Linked DNA regions of Homo sapiens. The protein of the gene in region 5 purifies or fractionates together with the protein of the main gene of each other region. This does not show direct contact. Each region holds a gene or a part of one and is shown on either strand. Other genes may lie near its edges.

Evidence for each region.
Region 1: the proteins of PHLDB3 (region 5) and RPRD1A purify together in Homo sapiens (affinity purification with mass spectrometry, with the first as the bait; one large-scale study listed by BioGRID). This does not show direct contact.
Region 2: the proteins of PHLDB3 (region 5) and BMAL1 purify together in Homo sapiens (affinity purification with mass spectrometry, with the first as the bait; one large-scale study listed by BioGRID). This does not show direct contact.
Region 3: the proteins of PHLDB3 (region 5) and TUFT1 purify together in Homo sapiens (affinity purification with mass spectrometry, with the first as the bait; one large-scale study listed by BioGRID). This does not show direct contact.
Region 4: the proteins of PHLDB3 (region 5) and VPS50 purify together in Homo sapiens (affinity purification with mass spectrometry, with the first as the bait; one large-scale study listed by BioGRID). This does not show direct contact.

What each region holds. Positions count from the first base shown.
Region 1 is NC_000018.10:36,033,047-36,036,566, forward strand, and holds part of RPRD1A (regulation of nuclear pre-mRNA domain-containing protein 1A), read right to left. Parts: intron 792-3,520; coding exon 662-791; intron 1-661. UniProt on the Homo sapiens protein: Interacts with phosphorylated C-terminal heptapeptide repeat domain (CTD) of the largest RNA polymerase II subunit POLR2A, and participates in dephosphorylation of the CTD by RPAP2.
Region 2 is NC_000011.10:13,382,271-13,385,790, reverse strand, and holds part of BMAL1 (basic helix-loop-helix ARNT-like protein 1), read right to left. Parts: intron 1,312-3,520; exon of another isoform or gene 1,067-1,311; intron 103-1,066; coding exon 1-102. UniProt on the Homo sapiens protein: Transcriptional activator which forms a core component of the circadian clock.
Region 3 is NC_000001.11:151,546,802-151,550,321, forward strand, and holds part of TUFT1 (tuftelin), read left to right. Parts: intron 1-3,520. UniProt on the Homo sapiens protein: Involved in the structural organization of the epidermis. Involved in the mineralization and structural organization of enamel.
Region 4 is NC_000007.14:93,294,862-93,298,381, forward strand, and holds part of VPS50 (syndetin), read left to right. Parts: intron 1-1,880; coding exon 1,881-1,975; intron 1,976-2,283; coding exon 2,284-2,382; intron 2,383-3,520.
Region 5 is NC_000019.10:43,491,240-43,494,759, reverse strand, and holds part of PHLDB3 (pleckstrin homology-like domain family B member 3), read left to right. Parts: coding exon 1-58; intron 59-3,520.

The DNA.
Region 1 (3,520 bases), on a different chromosome or scaffold from region 5:
TAATCCCAGCACTTTGGGAGGCCGAGGCAGGTGGATCACGAGGTCAGGAGTTCAAGACCAGCCTGGCCAAGATGGTGAAACCTTGTCTCTACTAAAAACACAAAAATTAGCCAGGCATGGTGGCAGGCACCTGTAATTCCAGCTACTTGCGAGGCTGAAGTAGGAGAATCGCTTGAACCCAAGCGGCAGAGGTTGCAGTGAGCCAAGATCGCACCACTGTACTCCAGCCTGGGTGAGAGTGAGACTCTGTCTCAAAAAAAAAAAAAAAAAAAAAAAAAAGAATAGAAACAGTACTAAGTGTATATGGAAATATTTGTTACAAGACTGATAGCTTTATAAACACACAAATTTTTACTTCAATACCTTCATTCATTTTTAATGAAGTTCATTCCAATATAGCAGTTGGTTCTGGTCTCTTAAAGGAAAGCTGTAATTCAAGTACTCCAAAGGCCCACCTTAGCAACAGTTCAAAAAATATTTTTCCTTCAGAGAAGGCATTTAATACATTTATAAATGCCATGTAGAGGGAAGTCTTTTCAAATAAAAGCATCAAAAAACTATATTCCCTACTTTTTATTTTAATAGTTTAAGGCAAATTTTAGCAAAAGGACATATGGTACATTTAAAACAGATTACCTAATACCCAAAACTATGATCATACCTTGAAACATGCTTAAAAGCCTCCACTATAACTGGTGCAAAATCTTTTGTAAACTCTGGCCCCTTCCTCTTGCTGTTCTGTATGACATCATTGGCTAGGTAGAGAAAAGTAAGCTTCCTGTTTGGTTTGGCTGAAAAATAAGAAAAAGTTAAAAATCTACTTAAAACATCTTTACTTGGACAAACTTTCTCAATACCTAAATTAAGCATTTTGAGAACTAAAATAACCCTACTAACCTTTATGTATCATTTCAACCCTAGTCTCTCATTTTACTACCAAACTAACCAGTCACTGCTGCTAAAATCGCCAGAACTAATGTCTATGTAAAAATGCATCTCGGTGACTCTATCCTGTATTAAATTTTAGTAAAACCATTACAAACTATATGAAATATAGTCATTTAAAATAAGATGGTGATTGCTCATGTTATTAAGATGGCACCCTAAATCCTACATTGAATTTAGGATTGTTTTAATAGACATGTTAATTCGAAATCATTATTAAGCTATTGTGAAACAACAGAAGAGCATGAAATGTAAAACAGGTTGAAAGAGATGTCCCTTCAATCAATTACTATTTTTTGTTTATGCAATAAATATTTGCCAAGCTAATAGATTAACTGCTAGGGAGAGTAAATGGGAAAAGTTTAGATGTTTCTGTCTTTAGATTACATGGCCATAAATTTTAAACTGAATTCATTATGACAAAAATATTCCCCTACTCACTATGCTCTGTGGGTGTAGTCATTTCTCTAAGGAAATAGACAAGATTTCAACAGTTGTGGGCCACAGTACATTTTTACTGGTTACAATGTTAAATAGCATACTACTACTGAATATGACTCAAATAAGATTATACATAAGGAAAACAGTGTTGAACATAATATTTTATACTATTCTTATATTTTACTAGAATTAAATTTGAATCACTCAATGTAGTACAGTTATATTCAGAAGCATCATACCTTGTGGCATCCATAGTACAGTGGTGTAGGAAACTTATGGTCAGGACCAATTATGCAGTATCCTATTGATGTGGGCTATCTTATTGGATTTAAGACAAAAATCTTGATCAGGCTACATGTGGTCCTCTAGATGTTAAGTATTCAATTTACAAATTTAAGCATTTGACATATTAAAAAGTCACCTCTGAGTTCACATCATTCTCGAGGAGCAACCAGAAGCCCAACCTTCTCATATACTAAGTCACAACTGATCAAACTTTACAAACCTGTGCCATGCCACTGTATAACCTGGTTTGTCTGTTTAAATTGCTGTCTACCACTTTTCATGATTTTGCAAGTTGCTGGCATGGAATAAAAATAAGAAGAGATGGCTATAACAGAGACCAGCTTCTGGTTTTCAGGCTCCTTGTCTGGTTAGATAAACCACAGTGTACAACTGGTTAAGATATCGGGACCCTATCCTAACATTCAGTCCTGTCTCTTTTGTACCCATCCTTGCCCTCTCAATCCCACCCACAAAATAGATTGGTATTGTTCAATCCAGATTTTTGCCTTCCCAGTGTCAAATGAGTTTAGAAACTCAAATTTGTATTATCTAATTGGGAGATTGCCTGCATCACTTTTGAATGGGTACCTGAACAAACAATCCTTTCACTGCACTTTTACTATGTGCTACACACTATTCCAAGCACTTTACATACATTATCTCAATCCTAACAATATGTCTCTATTTGGCAGCTGAACAAACAAAGCCAAAAACATTATTTGCCCTCAGGGAAATAATGAGGAAGAGATAAGCCAGGATTGGAATCCAAAAAGTCCAACAGCCAAGCAAATCCCTCTTAACAACTAGACCATGCTTCCTGTCATAATTAAAAGGGCATGTTAATCTTTGAGACTCAAAAGTAGCAACTGAAAAGAAGAAAAAGATAAAACAATGCAAAACAAAAAGTAGCAACTGAAATAAAAATATTTTACAATGTTAGCAGCATTATTCACAATAGCCAAGAGTTAAGAGCAACCTAACCCACTGATCAATGAATAAACAAAATGTGAATTATATATTCAATAAAGTATTATTCAGCCTTATAGAAGAAGGAAATGTTGACGCATGTTACAACATGGATGAATCTCCAGGACATCATGCCAGGTGAAATAATCGAGTCATGAAAAAAGACAAACCACTGTATGATTCTACTTATTGGAGGTACTCAAATTCATAGAAAAAAAGAGTAGAAGGATAGTTGCCAAAGGCTGTGGGAATGGGAGGAGAATAGGAAATTATTCATGGGTACAGAGTCTCAGTTTTGCAAAATGAACAGTTCTGGAAACTGGCTACACAACAATGTACTTAACACTACTGGACTGTACACGGAAAAAATGAAGATGGTAAATAATATTTATTACCACAAAAACAAAAAAAATGTTTTTGTTTTTTTTGTTTGAGACAAGTTCTGTCTCCCAGACTAAAGGCTCACTGCAGCCTCGACCTCCTGGGCTCTAGCAATCCTCCTGCCTCAGCTTCCAAGTAGCTGGAACCACAGGCACACGCCACCATGCCTGGCTAATTTTTTAAATTTTTTGTAGAGATAAGGTCTTACTTTGTTGCCCAGGCTGGTCTTGAACTCCTGAGCTCAAGTGACCCTCCCACCTAGGCCTCCCAAAGTGCTGGGATTACTGGTGTGAGCCACTGTGCCTGGCCCTAGAATGTTTTTTAAATTCATGGGTTATATCAATCTCTCAAAGAATTCAGAATTGCTTTTACAATATACACTAAAATAAAAATTTACAAGATTTAAAAATATATTTACCAGTGTTTTCCAAAGGACAAATTCCATATGAGGTGATTGAGCATGGGGTCCAAATACCAAGATACTATTTTCACTTTTATCTTT
Region 2 (3,520 bases), on a different chromosome or scaffold from region 5:
AAGAATAGAAGAACTATCAGAATATGGATAACCTGGGTTCTCCTGAGCCTGGCCTGATAGTAGGCCACTGGAAGGAATGTCTGGAGTCCCTCCATTTAAAATCTACAAACAAAAGGAGGGAAGTGTGAAGTTTGAATCAGTATTATGAGCAATGCCAAAAGGAAAATGAAGCATGGGGTGGGGTGGGGAGAAGCTTCAAATGGCTTCAGTTTTCTATTGGATGATTTCAAACAAGGAACTGTTAGACAGACATGGTCAGAGTAAGAAAAAACCTCTCCCCCGAACTATTCTTTTCTCTCCATTTTAGTGAGCCCACAGAGGCAACTTAAAGGCTGAATAAAATCCCAAGAGCATTCAACTGCCTGGAATCATGATGCCCACATATTTCTTTAGGACCAATGCCTAAACTTCAATGAGCCCAGCTAGACGTTTCCCCTATAAGGGAATAAAACATCTTATAGTGACAGATATTTCTGAAGAAGAAAAAGTGGAGTTAACAAGCTGTGAAGAGACACAGCTCAAGGAGTCAAATGAAGAAAACAGAAGTAAATCTCTTATACTACAGGTGCCAACTTCAGTAACCTGTGGTTTAAGTTAAGACAGGCTACTGGGGAGGATTATTACTACTACTCAGTAAGAGAACTCTGTCTCAAAATCTCCCCCACTCACCCCAGCTGCCTTCCCCTGGCTGAGTCTCAAAGAAGAGCATTCTTTGAGACCTATCTGGATATACGTGAGGAAACAGTTTGGTAGCTGCTGCTTTCAGGAGCAGCAATGATTTCAGGCTTTGCCAGCAGGTGGCATTATAACTTACTTTATTTCCACAGCAACGTTTTGGTCTAGGGACCCTTTTACACTCTTAAAAAAATCATTGAGGACTCCAAAGAACTTTTGCTTATGTAGGCTGTATTTATCAATATTTACTGTATTTGAAATTAAAACTAATAGATTTCTTAAATGTAATAAACCCGCTACATGTTAACATAAATAATGAATAGTATTTTAATGAAAAATAACTATTTTCTAAAACAGTAACAAAAAATTACCAGGCAGAGTATTATCTTACATTTTTGCAAATCTAATGTCTGGCTTAATAATTTTCAACTGGATTCTCATATATGTTTTTCCATTCAGTCTATTTAGATACGTCTTGTGATTCAAGTATATGAAGGAAATCCAACCTCCCACAGATAAGTAGTTGGAAAAGGGAGGCATATTTTAATAGACTTTTCAAATAATTGTATTCTTTTTTGATACCACTTCAAAACTTGACACGTAGAAGTTTCTTAAAGGTGAGTTGCAATGTGGAATCTGAAACCATATCAATGAATGTTTTGTACTCTTTATATCTTGGCACTTAGGATGGATCTTTTACCCTTACATGATTTTGAAATACCTTGCATTGTTTAGTTACAAAATATTGGTTCACTGAGTTATGCAGATCTTCTATATATTGACACATTTCATTATAGAGCATCAAAATATCACTATTATTAATACTCCCTATCTCATCAACAACATTTTTTAAGTTTTAGGAAGATCTCAAGGTCAAAGTAGCAGAGACAAGTTTTCTAAAAATTCCAATTTTTGCTTGAAAGCTCAGATTTTATCATTGGCAACAAATGTCAGTCATTTTCCTTAAAGTGACAGGTTCACTTCATTCATTTCCAAAAAAAAAGTATTCTAAATACCCAAAACCGAATGACCATATACAATAAAAATGGTGTCCAATGAAAATAGTAGCTAGTTCAACTCACAACTTAATCACACAAGTAGTTTTTGAGACAAACATCATACTTTGGTATGCAGCACAAGTTCTGTGTACTTCTCATTTTGTCACAGAGCATTAAAAAGATGTGTGCTTGAGAATTTTATAAAAGTAATGATGGACATTTTCCCTCCCTCCCTCACTCCCTTCCTTCCTTTCCTCCTTCCCTCCTTGATAGGGTCTCACTCTGGTTGCCCAGGCTGGAGTACAGTGGCACAATCTCAGCTCACTGCAGCCTCAACCTCCTGGGCTCAGGTGATTCTCCCACCTCAGTCCCCGGAGTAGCTGGGATTACAGGTACACCACCACACCTGGATAATTTTTTTTGTATTTTTTAGTAGAGATGGGATTTCTCTATGTTGCCCAGACTTGCCTGGAACTGCTGGACTCAAGCAGTTTGCCTGCCTCAGCTTCCCAGAGTGCTGAGATTACAGGGGTGAGCCACTGCACCTAGCCATGATGGACAATCTTAAATGAAACTGGCTTTAAACTATTTTTTTACTGTGAGTGTGTGGTGGTGAAGAATACAATGACTACTAGTATAGTTTGGTGCCACTTGTCTGATTTTTGTAAAATGCCAGCAATTTTACCCAACCGTGCTTTTAGTATGAATAGTGCACATTATCAATACAGGGAAAAAATTAACGTTTTAATGTTATTAAGAAAATAGCTTTAACCTTGCAGACCCTTAAAAGGATCTTGTGCCCCCTCTCTTTCTGGAAAAAGACTGCAGATGACATTTGTAGAACTGCTGCTTTATCTGAATTTTCCTTAGTGCTTCTGGATGTCTGTACTCTCTTGCGACCTATGGAGGCTCACTTAGGCTTCCTTTTTAGCTTGATCCTGACAAACAACTGCAGGCTAAATGGTTCATTTTTGGACCTTCCAAATTTGAAAGTGACTGGAAAGGGCTGGGTATGGTGCACCATTTAATACTGCTGTCAGTTTTAACTGTCTTGTTTAAGCTGCTTTTCTTATAAGTCCTGCTGCCCAGGACTCATCTCGTGAGAACACATCCAAATTTCTTCTCACAGATCCATTTTATAATCCATTCTTCTCAAAGAAAAGGGAGAATTTTCATAAGTGCCTCAAAAATAGCTGGGGCTTTATGATGCAGAGCACAGCTTTTGATTTCTGGTAGTTGTTGATGTGAAAAGAATTGGAAGCCATGAGCCCAGGATTGTAGCCTGGGGGCCATACTTATAAAACGAACGCTGAGGAGCCTGGATCTTGTCACTATAATGTTGTGAAGGTGAGATGAGACAATGTATATGAAAGTTCTTTGAGTAATATTTAAGCCTATACTGGACTGATAACCTTTCAAAACCAAGAAGTAGAATCCTTGGTAATACCAGGAGTCAAGTCAAGTGCCTAAAAGTTAACTTAAGAAGCAGAGACTGGAAGACCACCCTAAGAAGATGGTGGATCCAATATGCAGGAAGGACCTGGAGGTATAACAGAAGAACAGCTAAGAAGACAGCTGGCAAGCAGTGTGTGTGTTGTGGGCAGGGGGGCGGGGGTCACGGGACACCAAGCTCAGACTTCATCTGTCAGTGGTATTTTGGGCCAAGCACTTTCACATATATTATCTCACAGTAGGACCTCGTGCAAAGATGCTGGCTACCCTAACCATTATTAGCTCCATTATAAAGAAAACTAGGGCTTGAAAGTTGTACAAGTTCACATAACTAGCACATGGCAAGGCCAAGCTTCGAACCCAGGTCTTACTTTGTAGTCTTACCCATTAATTTG
Region 3 (3,520 bases), on a different chromosome or scaffold from region 5:
TTTTGGCTATCATTTATAATGCTGCTACGAACTTTGGTGTACAAGTTTTTGTGTGGAAATATATTTTCATTTCTCTTGGAGAGGAATACCTAGGAGTGGGATTGCTGGGTCAGAATATTTGCATTTTAAAGGAGGATTCATCTGTAGCCATTGCTGCTTACTCCAGAGGACTGAATGTATTCTAAAATGTGGAAGTCCTGGTTCTGTGACATCTGAGTGTGGGGAAAAACTGCTGGGCAGAGGAGCCTTTCAAGTTTGGTGGCTGCCTGTTCCTTCTACTCATGAAACTTGTCCTAAACTCAGCCCATAAATTTCTCCTCACACCATCCCATCTCTCCCATTTATTGCCAGGTTCTTACTTTCAGGAGCACTGCATTTTTCTGATGTCACCAAGGCTGCCAGGAATTTGGGGAATGCTGGGCTTTGCCAGAGAAGGAGGGATCTCCTCTGAGCGAGGAGAGTTACCTCATCATCAGGCATTTGGCACTAACATTTGCCCATAGTTCTCCAGGGTGGAGGGGGGCGTGCACCCAGATGGTTTCAGTTCCAGACACGTGTGCTCAGAGAGGTGGGATGAGCTTCCTTGCCTGCTAGTAATTATGGTGCATGCCTCTTTGGGTCAAGGTGCAGAGGCTTGTGAAATACCTTTGTTTTCTAGGGGTTGGGAAGGTTCAGTTGCGGAAATAGGTATGTGCCAGGAAGGCTGGTGGCCCAGATTTAAGCCTGGCCAGCAGAGGCAGGAAGTGGAGGAGACAATATAGGGTAAGAAGGGGATGAGTCGATGAAGGAAGAAAAGAGACGTGGTTTTCTTGGGTCTGGGAGCACAGAAGCAAAAATCACTAAGCAGGTAGTCAGAGACTAGAGAGGGCAGAGCCACTCCCTTTGATGCAGAGGGGGCACTGAGGAACTTGCCCTTTCATTCCAGGTTTGCTGGTCGCTAGGCAGGTGTCCTAGAGTGAGACTGGCTTAGCAAGTGGGTGTCTCCTTCAGAGTTGGTTCAGGAGCTCACTTCCCTCTACAGACACACTGTCACTGCTAGGCCCTAGTGTTTTCCTTTGTTAGGGCTCCAAGTAATGAGAAAGGCTGCCCCATGTAGGGTGCCACCTCAAATCCTTTTTCTCATTTCACCTCACAGTAACCCTGGTGAGCCCTCTACATAGTGCCTGTCCAGCCCATGCCTCTGGGTAGGCAGCCACATAAAAATCAAACACCTGTTTTGTTGGCTAATCTGGGGAGGAAGAAAGGGAGTGATTCTTTGTGTCATACTCCACAAAGGGCCATCTCTGGCCTAGGCAGCACTGCAGAAGGCAGGACCATGTACCTGAGACTGATGAGCTGAGTCGGGTGCGAGCCTCACTCAAGGAGAGGGTAGAGAGGGTAGGTACCCACCTATCCCATCCGGCTCTGTTCTTTGAGTTTATGGGACTTCCTTCATCCTGATCACTTGGGTGCCATTGTTACAAGGGGCTGGCTATTCCTACTTTTCTTTTTTCTTTTTCTTTTCTTTTTTTTTTTTTTTTGAGACGGAGTCTTGCTCTGTCACCAGGCTGGAGTACAGTGGCCCAATCTTGGCTCACTGCAGCCTCCACCTCCCAGGTTCAAGTGATTCTCCTGCCTCAGCCTCCCAAGTAGCTGGAGCTACAGGCGTGCGCCACCACGCCCAGCTAATTTTTGTATTTTTAGTAGAGATGGGGTTTCATCCTGTTGGCCAGGATGATCTCAATCTCTTAACCTCGTGATTCGCCTGCCTTGGCCTCCCAAAGTGCTGGGATTACAGGCTTGAGCCTCCGTGCCCAGCCTCCCATTTTTCAAAGTGGGGAAACTGAAGTGACTGCTCCTCCAGCAGCTTGAGAGGCCATGTACACTTGGGGTGGGAAAGTGGGTGGGATTGAGGGGCAAAGTGAGGGAAGAGTGGGATACAGGGTGAAGATGAATTAAGGTTGCTGGTTTCCAGCTCAGGGGCAATCTCCACTTCCTTTACTTCCTCTTAGAAAGAACCTTACACTTGACTCCTACCCAGTCCTAGTGACCCCTGTAAAACCTGGGGAGTGAGAGCTGGGGGAACGCAGGCTTTTCCCTATTCACATGAGCCTGTGGTGTGAGAACTCTGCACCTCTCTCCTTATTTCCCTGGGGCCTCCCTGTTTATCTCCTTATCTCTGCTGTGGCGTCTTGATCTCTAACCCCTCAGCTATGTGTTTACCCCCTCCCTGCTTTGAGGAGTGAGTCAGGGTTGGAGATTTGTTTGAACAGAGTGGTGAGGCTGCCTATAATTTGGAGGTAGCTGGGCTTCTCCCAAAAATGTTTATGAGGTTAGAGGCTGCTTACCTTGTGATTAGTACTGCTCCTTTTTCCCTAGAGAAGAAGGCTCCACTTCTCATCTTGCCTTTTAGAGTACCCAGTAGAGACCCCCCTGCCGGATATTTTTGGGGTGTTCCTAAAGCTCCCTGGAGCCTGCTCATAGTCCTGAGGAAATGCAAGCCTGCTCTAGAAAACAACTAAGTGCACCAGGCAGAGAGGAGCCCCAGGATTTGCTCCTTGACTCTGGGTTGGGGGTGCAGGCCGAGGTCTGTGGCCTTGCTGACTAAGATGCATTCTCCAGTTCTGGAGGATGAGGTGCCAGAGAGAGCCCTAAGTTTTTCATCAGCTCCATTAGACAATTTACCTCATCCACCCTCTTCCCTTGCAGACTTTCCAGAGCTACTTGGGAAAGTAATGCTGCTTCACCCTTGTGAAGAGATGTATGGTTTGCAAATCACTTTTACATCATTCTTGCACATCTATCTACTCTTCCTAAAATGTCGGTTGTGAAATTATCACCCTCATTTTACAGACAGAAAACTGAGGCCCAGAGAGATTAAGTGATTTGCTCAAGGATTAATGGTCATCAATCAGGACTCAGACATCCTGCCTCTGACTTCAAGTTTAGTACTTTGTTTTGAAACAGAGTCTCGCTCTGTCACCTGGGTTGGAGTGCATGGCACAGTCTTGGCTCACTGCCGCCTTGACCTTATGAGCTCAATTGATCCTCTCACCTCAGCTTCCCTAGTAGCTGGGACTGCAGGTGTGCACCACCACACCAGGCTAATTTTTGTACTTTTTGTAGAGACAGGGTCTCATTATGTTGCCCAGGCTGGTCTCAAACTCCTGGACTCAGGTGATCTGCCCTCCTGGGCCTCCCAAAGTGCTGGGATTACAGGCGTGAGCCAACATGCCTAGCCAAGTTTAGTACTTTTTCTTTCCTTCTCTTTATATGTTTTATTATAGGAGTGTCACAGGGCTCACTGCACCTCTCTCCTTATCTCCCTGGGGCCTCTGCCTCCCAGGTTCAAGCGATTCTCCTGCCTCAGCCTCCCAGGCAACTGGGATTACAGGTGCCCACCACCACACCTGGCCAGTGTTTTGTATTTTTAGTAGAGACGGGGTTTCACCATGTTGGCCAGGCTGGCCTTGAACTCCTGACCTCTGGTGATCCACCTGCTTTGGCCTCCCAAAGTTCTGGGATTATAGGCGTGAGCCAC
Region 4 (3,520 bases), on a different chromosome or scaffold from region 5:
GTCTTGAGTACATCTTTTGTTTTAGAGGCCTAGCAAATTTCCACTATCATAGAGAAATGTATGCTTTCTCAGTGAGATGTTCTGTTTATTATTTCATTTATCTGTGTTTTCTTAATTTTTTTTTCTGTTAATTTTAGAAAAGGAGTAACTAAGTAGATAGCATACTTAGGTCAGATTATAGTTTAGAATGAATAATTCTTTTTTTCTCAGTCAATGATCTTTGTACCTTGAGGGAATCTTACATGCTTATTGGCTGAATATATCTGGTTTTAGTCCATTTGGGCTCCTATAACAAAATATTCTAGACTGCATAGTTTATAAACAGAGAAGTTTATTTCTTAGAATTCTAAAGGCTGGAAGTCAGAGATCAGGGTGCCAGCATTGTTGGGAGGGAGGGCCTGCTTCCTGGTTCATAGACATTGTCTTGCTGTATCCTCAAATAGTGGAAGGGATGAAGGAGCTCTCTGGGGTCCCTTCTATAGGGGAACTAATCTAATTAATGAGGGCTCTACCTTCACGATTTAATCATCTCACAAAGGCCCCACCTTCTAATATATTATCACCTTGGAGGTTAGAATTTCAGCTTCGGAATTTTGGGTAGACATGAACATTCAGACCATAGCAGTATCTTATTAAGTTTTTCTTTACAATTTAGTAACTCAGTTGTTGTAATCAGATAATTTGTTACTTCTTAGATCACAGTGTAATTTCTTTGAAGATAACTTACTCTTTTTGGACTTCTTTGAACCTTGGAAGACTATAGACCCTTTGGCCATGTTATGGTCTTTTAAAATGTATTTTTGATTTTTCTAATGAGGCTGATCTTTATTTTGACCATCTTTTTTTTTCTTTCTTTCTTTTGATTGATTGATTGATTGATTGAGACAGGGTCTCACTCTGTCACCCAGGCTGGAGTGTGGTGGCAGAGTCATGGCCCAGTGCAGCCTCGACCTCTTGGGCTCAGGTGATCCTTCTGCCTCAGCCTCCTGAGTAGCTGGGACCACAGATGTGCACCACCATGCCTAATTTTCTTAAATTATTATTGGTGGATATGGGGTCTTGCTATGTTGCCCAGACTGGTCTTGAACTCCTGGGCCCAAGTGATATTCCTGCCTTGGCCTCCCAAAGTGCTGGGATTACAGGCATCAGCCACCATGCCCAGCTTGACCATCTTTTATAGGATATGTTTTGAAAAAAATTGTTTAGGAAAATATATTTTGAAAACATAAATTTCTTCATGAATCAGTTAATATTTATAATTTAGTGCTCTTCTAATTTTTGATAATTTTGTATTCGATATGCTATTTGATTTTATGCTTTAGTATTTAAAATTTATTTTTGTGGTTGTAAGAGGTTTGACATATATTTTCTCATTTGTCTATATTAAACTCATAACCATATTAAACATTTATTAAAATTAAATATTTAATTTATCATTAATTGTGGATTTAGGCTGACTGTTTTCTGAGTATTATGCATAAAAAGAAAGGAAAATCTTATAGTTATTGAATATACACCCAGGATCAGATATGATTTGTTTCTGACTTAGTCTCCCAATAGGCCTTAAGTGTACTTTGGTAAAATTTTACAATCTATGATAGAATTTCTGGTAATTCAGTGTACTTTGAAATACTGACTTAGCACTTTATGTAGCTACTTTCCATTCAGTTTGGCAACCTGATGGCATTCCTGGTATAGGAAATGGGATTGTCTCTATTACATCCCTTAAGGATGTTGGCTATTGGCCTAAATAGATATTCGTTAACAAATTAGGAATATATTCCTGTCTCATTTTAATCTGGAACTATAGAGTAAATGCTTCTGATAACTTATTTTCTATATTTTGGGTTTGCTTGATTTTCTTTTTCTTTGCCTTACAGGATGTTCAGCTAAAAGTAAAAACCTACTTGCTTGGAACTGATTTGTCTATATTCAAATATGATGATTTCATCTTTGTTTTGGATATAATCAGCAGGTAGTATTTAAGATCTTGTCTTATTCTTTAGTTTGAGTCATTCAACCATGATAAATCATGAGCTAGTGAGTTATCATCTATAACTTCTTTATGGAAATGAAGATAATTTTTGCTGCTAAGTTTGTGAGTGTATTTAAATATTTCTGCCCTTTGGGTGTTTGTAAACCTTTATGGATTTGTGATCTTTAGAATTTTTTCACATGTCCAAATTTTAGTGATTTTTTTTATCTTTGAAGAAAGAGAAACCACACTTCTTTTTCTCTATAAGGCTGCTGCTGAAATTTACTGAAACCTTTTTATCCAACTAGGTTGATGCAAGTTGGAGAAGAATTTTGTGGTAGCAAGTCTGAAGTTTTACAGGAATCTATTAGAAAACAAAGTGTCAATTATTTCAAGAATTACCATAGGTAAGAACTCTAATAAGATATGAATCGACTTATTTAGGTAATGAGAATACTTTTGTCTAATACTTAATCTTATAGCATTAATTGATTTTAAACAATTACTTTTGAATTTGAATGTGTTGTAGCTTTTTTAAGATGGTTAAGGATTTTTTTAACCAAAATATGATGAAATGTTCTCATTACATATTCATTGTACATTTTAATATATTTTTGTCTTGAGGGGCTTAAAATATTGAACTGATTTTTTAATGAGTAAAACATGATTATTATATCAAGGTTCACAGAAAGAATTTGGCCACTGTTCCATACCTGCATACATATGGGTGTGCTTATAAGGAAGTTAAATCAGTAGAGGCAGTGCTCAGTGAGGGGGTGCTTGAGAGTATCTATCTTTTAAATGTAAGAAGGATTCTAGAGGAGAGGATGTGATATTCAGAATTCCCCTATAAATCCAAATTTGTATACTGCATTGCTTTGCAAAACAATCACTGCTAATATTTAAAAGAGTGACTAGGAATGGTTTGGGTAGTGGAGGAAGGTGGGAAAGAATGTTTATAATAGCAGTGTGATTATATCCTTACAGCAGCAATAAATTGAGGGAAGGGAGAGCTAACATGAGATTTCTCTTGATATAAGCTAGACCCCAAGTTGTATCCCTTTTGTCCTTTGAGTTGAGTTTCATCTTACTTTTTATTCTGAACTTTTACTTTTTACAATTGAATTTAAGTTTTGATTTCCTTGTTATTTGGTCCCAGAGAGAGTCATGATTTGAAATTCTGCTTTTTCTCCTTGTTCATAGTCAACACCTGCTCACAGTGATATATGCCATGTCAAAAGAGAGATGACTGAACACCAAACCATTGATTAATTAATTATTATATATATTTGAATACAAGTTATCTCTGTTAATTGTAAACAATGAAGTAAATTGTTTGAAAAAGATTTAAATTGAACTATACTAAAGCAGAGCCTTTGAGTTTCATGACTGAGAATGTTTAAAAATTTTTTAAAAATTTAATTGACTAAACCTCAGGGAAACAGTGGGAAGGGACCAACAGGAAGCCCTAACACTGCCTTTATTTATAAGTTCCTTGTCTGCTAAAACTTAAGCCCTGACTAAAACAAAAGGCTGGCCCTATAA
Region 5 (3,520 bases):
CCACTCCGCTGCCACCCCTACTTCTTCCTGCCTCTTTTCTGTCCACAGCTCCCTGCAGGTGCCTCCCCCACGGCCTCTGTTTCCCCATATATCTTATTGGTCAGTGAGGAGGGAGGGGCTAACAGCAGAGTCCCCGAACTGGGGTCTCCAGAACTTCCACTCTGATTTTCTGTATGGGGCCGGTGGGGGATAGGGAAGGTTGGCCAAGGGTTATTCCTATGACTCCAGCTTTATTATTGTTATTTTTTTTCTGTGTAACACCCACCCCTGCCCTGGCGAAATGGGAACATGTGCACCCAGGAGTAGATTTTAAAAGCAACCAAACAGCATATTTTAATAAGGTCTCCCCTTCTCAGAAGTAACGCAGCTACTTGTGTTTTGAGAATCCTTCTAGACTTCCTTAAAACTGCGGGGGTGGTGGGGGGGCAGCTCATTTATAGTTAAAACAGGCGCCCAGCATGGTGGCTCATGCCTGTAATCCCAGCACTTTGGGAGGCCAAGGCAAGCGGATGACCTGAGGTCAGGAGTTCGAGACCAGCCTGGCCAATATGGTGAAACCCCATCTCTACTAAAAATACAAAAATTAGCCAGGCATGGTGATGCAGGGCTGAGGCACGAGAATTACTTGAACCTGAGAAGGCAGAGGTTGCAGTGAGCCGAGATTATGCCACTGTACTCCAGCCTAGGCGACAGAGTGAGACTTTGTCTCAAAAAACAAACAAAAAAAATCCCTAATCCAAAATGCTCAAAAATCTGAAACTCTTTGAGTGCCTACATGATACTCCAAGGAAATGCACATTGGAGCAGTTTGGGTTTCAGAGTTTTAGGTTAGGGATGCTCAACCCAAATATTCCAAAATCTGAAAAAAAATCCCAAATCTGAAACCCTTCTGGTCCCAAGTATTTTGGAGAAGGGATATTCAACCTGTCCTTCTGAAAAATGTGTATATTAGCTACTAGTTGGCTTTTCTTTTTAAAAATGATATATTTGGGACATATTTATGGGGTACATATGCTATTACATGCATAGAATGTGTAATAAGTCAGGGTATTGGGGTATCTATCACCTCAAGTATTTATCATTTCTGTGTGTTGAGAACATTTCAAGTCCTCTTCTAGCTTTTTTTTTTTGACAGAGTCTCACTCTGTTGCCCAGGCTAGAGTGCAATGGTGGGATCACAGCTCACTGCAGCCTCAACCTCCCAGGCTCAGGTGATCCTCCTTGAGTAGCTGGGACCACAGGCATGCACCACACACCACCATACACAGCTGATTTTTGAAGTTATTTTTGTAGAGTTGGGGTCTTCCTTTTGCCCAAGCTGGTCTTGAACCCTTAGGCTCAAATGGTCCTCTTGTTTTAGCCTCCCAAATTGCTGGGATTACAGGCATGAGCCACCGCGCATGGGTCCAATTTGTAGAGATAGGGTCTCACTGGCTTTTATTTTATTTATTTATTTATTTATTTATTTATTTATTTATTCTGAGACAGAGTTTCACTCTTATTGCCAGGCTGGAGTGCAATGGTGCGATCTCAACTCACTGCAACCTCCGCCTCCTGGGTTCAAGCGATTCTCCAGCCTCAGCCTCCTGAGTAGCTGGGATTACAGGCATGCGCCACCAAGCCTGGCTAATTTTTGTATTTTTAGTAGAGATGGGGTTTTGCCATGTTGGCCAGGCTGGTCTCGAACTCCTGACCTCAGGTGATCTGCCCACCTTGGCCTCCCAAAGTGCTGGGATTACAGGTGTGAGCCACTGTGCCTGGCCCACTGGTTTTTATTTTTTAACTTAACTCTATCTTGGAGATTGTTTTACATTGATACATTTACAGTTGCCTCATTTTTAATGACTTTACAATAATAATAATAATAACATTAACAATAGCAATAATAATAACAATGGTTTTATTGAGTCATTATAGTGTGCAAGGCATGGTTACAAATGCTTCATGCTGATTGGCTTACTGATTTGTCTTTGCAACAAATCTGTGAGCTAGGTTCTTGTTTCCATGTTATAGGCAAAAACACCAAGAGAGGTTAAGTTGTTTAACCAGCTAGTATGTGGCAGAGCTGGGATTTGAACCCAGGTACTCTGTTTTCAGAACTTAGGTTCTTTTTTCCTTTTTTTTTTTTTTTTTTTGAGATAGGGTCTGGCTCTGTCACCCAGGCCAGAGTGCAGTGACACGATCTGCCTCCCAGGCTCAAGCCATCCTGCAGTTTAAGCAATACTGTTAAGAATACCAGTGTGTGGGCTGGGCTTGGTGGCTCATGCCTGTAACCCCAGCATTTTGGGAGGCTGAGGCAGATGGATCACCTGAGGTCAGGAGTTCCAGACCTGGGCGACAGAGTGAGACTTTGTCTTAAAAATAAATAAATAATAACAGTGTGCGTCAGCTCATGCCTGTAATCCAGCACTTTGAGAGGCCGAGGTGGGTGGATCCCTTGAGGACAGGAGTTCAAGACCAGCCTGGCCAACTTGGTGAAACCCCATCTCTACTAAAAATACAAAAAATTGGCTGGGCGCGGTGGCTCACACCTGTAATCCCAGCACTTTGGGAGGCGGAGACAGGCGGAGCACGAGGTCAGGAGTTCGAGACCAGCCTGGCCAACATGGTGAAACCCCGTCTCTACTAAAAATACAAAAATTAGCCGGGTGTGGTGCATGCCTGTAGTCACAGCTACTTGGGAGGCTGAGACAGAAGAATCGCTTGAACCCGGAAGGCGGAGGTTGCAGTGAGCCGAGATCATGCCACTGCTCTCCAGCCTGGGTGACAGAGCGAGACTCTGTCTCAAAAAAAAAAAAAACAAAAAAAAAAAAACGGCCAGGTGCAGTGGCTCACGCTGGTAATCCTAGCACTTTGGGAGGCAGAGGCAGGCAGGTCATAAGGTCAGGAGATCGAGACCAGCCTGGCTAACATGGTGAAACCCTGTCTCTACTAAAAATACAACAAATTAGCCTAGTCCCAGCTACTCAGGAGGCTTTGGCAGGAGAATTGCTTGAACCTGGGAGGCGGAGGTTGCAGTGAGCTGAGATCATGCCACTGCACTCCAGCCTGGGCAACAGAGCGAGACCTTGTCTCAAAAAAAAAAAAAAAATTAGCTGGGTGTGCTGGTGCGTGCCTATAATCCCAGTTACTCGGGAGGCTGAGGCAGGAGAATAGTTTGAACCCAGGAGATGGAGGTTTCGGTGAGCTAAGGTCGCACCACTGCATGACAGCCTGGGCAACAGAGCGAGACTCCATCTTAAAAAAAAAAAATCTTGTTATTTATTAATCAATATTAATAACACTAATTTTAAAGCACTTAATATAGGTCAGGGTCTGTTCTAAACCATTTTATCACTTTGAATCTTATGGAATTGCTAATATTTGGAGGCAAGAAACAGTCGTATACTGGCAATTCCCCTGGCTCAACCTAATATATAAAATTTCATTTTTTCTTGGGAAGAACCCTCACAAGCAGGTTCCGTTATTATTTGGGTGAAGGGTTAGCAGATGTTCTTCTGTATGGGAAATTAACTTTCTG